Linked DNA regions of Homo sapiens: region 2 is linked to region 1. A link means that fine-mapping ties the variant in region 1 to the expression of a gene that starts in the linked region. Tissue or cell type: nasal epithelium. Region 1 holds a variant in brackets; the other region holds the start of a gene. All regions are shown on one strand. Distances are between the middles of the regions.

The links. PIP is the estimated chance that this variant, and not a neighbour inherited with it, causes the effect.
Region 2: SLC5A12 starts here. The variant in region 1 is fine-mapped to the expression of SLC5A12 in nasal epithelium (TOPMed, PIP 0.90).

The regions. Positions count from the first base shown.
Region 1 is chr11:27,054,756-27,057,444 of GRCh38, reverse strand. BBOX1 (gamma-butyrobetaine hydroxylase 1) reads right to left here. Exons shown (of 9, transcript NM_003986.3): 3 at 1,796-2,052; 4 at 130-244. The coding sequence starts at 2,014. All of the region lies in intron 3 of BBOX1-AS1 (BBOX1 antisense RNA 1), which reads left to right. Among named protein-coding and RNA genes, the nearest start is that of BBOX1, 15 kb to the right of the region's middle. The variant A/G (reference allele first, on the strand shown) is at 1,347.
Region 2 is chr11:26,720,764-26,723,452 of GRCh38, reverse strand. SLC5A12 (solute carrier family 5 member 12) reads left to right here and starts at 1,393. Exons shown (of 15, transcript NM_178498.4): 1 at 1,393-2,077. The coding sequence starts at 1,739.

The sequences.
Region 1 (2,689 bases):
ACCACATAATTTACATGTCACATATTTTAATCAAAGCACAAAGGTTTGAATTTTCTGTGAGCAAATTTCTTAATAAAAATCCTTTACTGTAAGGGTTTAAAAAGACATTGAAGACTTTGGCAAAGTTACCTGGAAAAAACAATTCTCTTTGGAGCTTTGCTCTGGCCTGCTTGGAAAAGCATCTTTTCTTCAGCCAATCAGCCTGGAATTCACTGTAATGCTCATCGGGCCATGTGATGTACACCTTATAACACAAAAAGCAAATTTCACCTATGTGGATTTTATTTCCGTTCTCCACTATTGCTCTGTTTTTGAATGCTGTTTAAGATAATCAGGGAATCCAATTATGCTTTGCTTAATTTTTTTTTTTTTTTTTTTTTAAGTCGGAGTCTTCCTCTGTTGCCAGGCTGGAGTGCAGTGGCGCAATCTCGGCTCACTGCAACCTCTGCCTCCCGGGTTCCAGCGATTCCCCTGCCTCAGCCTCCCAAGTAGCTGGGATTACAGGCACGCGACACCACGCCTGGCTAATTTTTTGTATTTTAGTTGAGACGGGGTTTCACCATGTTGGCTAAGACAGTCTCCATCTCCTGACCTTGTGATGCGCCCGCCTCAGCCTCCCAAAGTGCTGGGATTACAGGCGTGAGCCACCATGCCTGGCCAGCTTAATTTTTAAGACAGAGATTAAGCATACGCTTTTGGAAAACAAGGAAGCCAAAGTAATACATCTGAGGTCTGAGGCCCTTAAATAGCACTCAAGAAATAGAGCATGGATAGATCTACAGTTCTTGACCTACATCCTCTAAACCTGGGATCCCCAAACTTTCTGTGATAACTGAAGCTAGTTGTCAATTAAGATTCCTGCCAAGAGTATTAGAAATAGTAATGGTGCAGCTGGGTGTGGTGGCTTATGCCTGTAATCCCAGCACTTTGGGAGGCCGAGGCAGGCAGATCACAAGGTCAGGAGTTTGAGACCAGCCTGGTTAACATGGTGAAACCCCGTCTTTACTAAAAATACAAAAATTAGCCGGGCATGGTGGCCCATACCTGTAATTCCAGCTACTTGGGAGGCTGAGGCAGGAGAATTGCTTGAACCCGGGAGGCGGAAGTTGCAGTGAGCTGAGATCGCCCCACTGCATTCCAGCCTGGGCAACAGAGCAAGATTCCATCTCAAAAATAAATAAATAAAAGTAAGTAATAGTAGTGATGATAAGGAGTACAACAGCAATAATAAAAATAACACTATTTTGAGTATCCATAACAAGTACTATAGACATAACACATTTAATCTTTACAACTCTAGGGGGAAGGTACTACTATTATTCTCATTTTTTTCAGGTGAGAAATGT[A/G]AGAGTAAACAACATTTCTATCTAGCTAGCAAGCAGTGAAATCTGGGAGTAAAGTCCTCAAGTCGGGATGTGGACAAGAGCATAATAAGAATCCTAGTAAATTTGGAAGAGAGAAACATGGAATGGTGGCTGCCTCTGGTTTGTAGTTTTGAGAGCTGTGCTTTTGGGAATCCCAGAACAAGCCTTGTATCTCTACATACTAATTTGACTAAAAGACAAGTAACACTGCAAATTTTATTAAAAATAGTAGTAGTAATGATAATAGTAATAATAATAGCTGAAGCTTCCATTTACTGAATATACTTAATTCGCACCAAGTACTATACAAACGTGGGTTCATATGCGGTTATATATGCGTGACCAAATAAAAAAGAGTTATCTAAATTATTGTTGACTAGCCCCATTATTGAACTTGAGAAAGAAGGGAGACATAATTTAGAGATAATTACCTTTTTTCTGTCAAATATCAAGCCTTTAATTCCAATGTTCACATCAAGAGCTTCCACTAGAAGTTTCCGTGCTTTTGCAGAATCCAGGTAGCAATCAGAGCACGGACAGTTGTCTCTCAACCATACAGCTGGGTAGAGAGACTCTTCCTCATCATACCAGAGGATCTGCATCAAATGAGCCCCGTCAAGTGCTTCTGCCTTTTGGATGGTACAAGCCATGTTTCCGGTCTTCAGGAGTAGATGCTGTCAGCTACCTGCTATGACAAATCAGTGTTAAAAGGAATCTCAGGCAGATAAGATCTAAACTTGGCCTCTGAGAGTGTGAACACTTCAAGTGGACTCTGGCCTCTGCTATTCACTCAGCTGTCAGAGTCTGCGGTTTGACTTATTGACGCTGGGACCTTTGTTCTGGTGAGAGTATTTCACATACTGTAAGCAGAAACACAGTGACTAAAAGTAAATGGGATGTAAGTGCTGAGTCAGGATCCAAATGAAAAGAATTCCTTGTTTTTCTCACAGAAAATTCAGATATTAAGTTCAGAACCAATGACATATGCACTTTAATAATTATGTTTGCATAAAAGCTCTGGAATGTTTAAGGAAGAAAAATGTTCCACAAATTGAAAGTGTAACAATCACCCCTGTCCTATTTTAACTGGTGCCCACTTGGACATGGCTTTTGAAAAAAAATGTTTTTATGATACTAAATTAGTAAACTCGTCTTTATGAAGAGAATATTAATGCTTATTATTTACTTAAAGACCACTGTAATTCAGAATATTGCACTGTTTCTTCAATTCAGAATATTGCGCTGTTTCTGTTCTATCATTTGCTTTTTTACCTTTACAATACATTTTCTTAATGAAATATAGAAGTCCTTAGGTTCTGCAAGAA
Region 2 (2,689 bases), 330 kb after region 1:
ACAAATAATTAAAAGCCCAGGTTAAGGTAAATATATTAAAGACCAAGATTTGCAGTAACATTTATCATATCAAATCTCCAAATCTAGTGGAGGAATTTAAACAGAGGACACAGACAGCTCTTGGGAGAGTCTTCATATTTTTATTGGTAACTAAAAGCATACTTTAGCTATCTAATTAAACCTTTCTTTGGTCTAATTCAAATTCATGAAGCAAAGATTTATTCAGTTATCCAGATGTGAAAAGCAAAATTAGAGCGTTTTTTGTTTTATTGTTTGGCTGGAAATGTTTCTGTCTTTGGGCATTATGGATAATTTTAGTTTTCTCCTTTCTAAAAATTATTTTTTTTATTTTCTACAATGGCTATAATGTATTGGGTATATGGACTAGAGCTTTGCTTCTGTCTTCAAGGAAATGTCATTTGAACAGCTGACAGACTCCTGTAGCCGGTTACATAGAGATTCCCTAAAATAGGCAAGATGATGGCTGAGTACAAAATGAGTACTAGGGAGGCTACGTTCTACAGGAGTTGACGTGGAGAGGCAGAAAAGCTTCACAGAGTAGAGAAAACTCATACTAGATCTTGTAGAATACACAAGCTTTGTAGAGGTGGGGATGGAGAAGGCCACTGAAGAAGGAGGAGAAGCATGAACAAAATTAGAAATTGCACTAGAGGTACTTTGGAACAATTGACAGAGTCTAAAGAGAGCAGAAACAGGAATTTATAACTGGATTGTTACCTTCCTTCTCTAATTTGTCCTGGTCCTAATTCTAACTTAGCCTGTGGGTACAGTGATAGTAACCTGGTGAAAATAAGAGAAAGACAAGATAAAGTTGAAGGCTATAAATAATTTATTAATTAATGGCAAATTGATTTTTCTAGGTCCTAGAATAAAGAAAGAAAAGCTATGATGTTCCAGAGTGCTCTGCTGTAAGCACAGATAATAGCCAATGGGGTACATATTATTACCTTTCATTTTACAGATCAAGACAAAGAGAGTCAGGAAGTTTAAGACTTAAGTCTTTAAAGACCTTGTAAGGTCTTATTATCCCTGTGTTCCAGGTGAAGTTCAGAAATGTTAAATGATTTATGAAATGTTTCATGGCTTTCTCGTGGTTGAGCCAGGACTCGAGCAAAGGTCTCTGAATTCCTAGTCCTTTGCTTCTTTCTCTCCACATCCACTGCCTCAGACAATTGCAGGCACACAGCCTTCACTCTCCCTTCTTCAAGAGGAAGACACTGCTGAGGATTGTGTTTGCATTTTACAGATTCCATCTCACGAATTAAAAATGCTGAGGTGGTAAATTGTTATCAATTCTATGTTTCCCAGAAATGTTTAACCTTAAGTTAAAAAAAATCTAAGAGATAAAACAGCATGTTATCTGGCCAGTCCATTCCACCCCCAGTGGTTATTAATTTCAGAACACATCTGAATTCCTTCTCTGTGGCATATGCTTTAGGAGAGGAGCAGACAGCTCTTAGCTAGGGTCAGATTTCAAATTCTCATCTCTTGGTGCCAATACCACCACCAGATTCTTCTTTGAAGTCAACTTTTGAGATCTTCACTAAGTACACGTTGGTGTCTGAAGATTCACACGAGTGCCTCTGGTAATCATTTTCTTCAGGGAATCACAGTCTCTCCTCTCAGCAAAGCATCCACTGTACTGAACTTTGCTTTTGGAAACATCTTCTTCCTGAGACCTCGTTGAAAGAAACTCTCTGGTGTCATACTTTCCAATATGGAGGTGAAGAACTTTGCAGTTTGGGATTATGTTGTATTTGCAGCCCTCTTTTTCATTTCCTCTGGAATTGGGGTGTTCTTTGCCATTAAGGAGAGAAAAAAGGCAACTTCCCGAGAGTTCCTGGTTGGGGGAAGGCAAATGAGCTTTGGCCCTGTCGGCTTGTCTCTGACAGCCAGCTTCATGTCAGCTGTCACGGTCCTGGGGACCCCTTCTGAAGTCTACCGCTTTGGGGCATCCTTCCTAGTCTTCTTCATTGCTTACCTATTTGTCATCCTCTTAACATCAGAGCTCTTTCTCCCTGTGTTCTACAGATCTGGTATCACCAGCACTTATGAGGTAAGATGATTTCTCCATTCTTCTCTAATTTTTTTTTCTCATCCTCTTGATGATAGCACCTGGTAGTTGAAGAACACTCACTGATTTTCAGGATAATTACACATTATGAGAAAGACATTAAAATGTTTTTGTAAAAAGCCTAAGCTTTGGAGACAGACATATCTATTTTCCCATCTGTAGAAGGAAAATAATGATGACAATCCCACAGGGCTATTTTAATGATCAAATGAGAACCTCTATGTGAGCACTTAATGTATGGCCTCATTTGTAGGAGGTTTGCAATAAAGAGGGCTGATGTTATTTTTTATTATTGTGAACGTCATCATTCTGAAAAGCAAACAGAACATTTCTCATGAGTACGGCAATTTTCCAGCTAAGAAAACTGAGATACAGATAAATGACTTAGTTAAGATTTTTGAATAGTAAAGTGACCTGAGAACCTAATTTTTTCTGTATCTCTACTTAGTGGCCTTTCCGTCAGAGAGTAGAGGGCATTTTAATACAAATTATAATAAGACTAATTTTTAATGAGGAAATGGAAACATTTTTGAAAAGTACAAAACATTTTAACGAAAGGAATTGCTAAATAATACAAATATGGGAATTATTTAA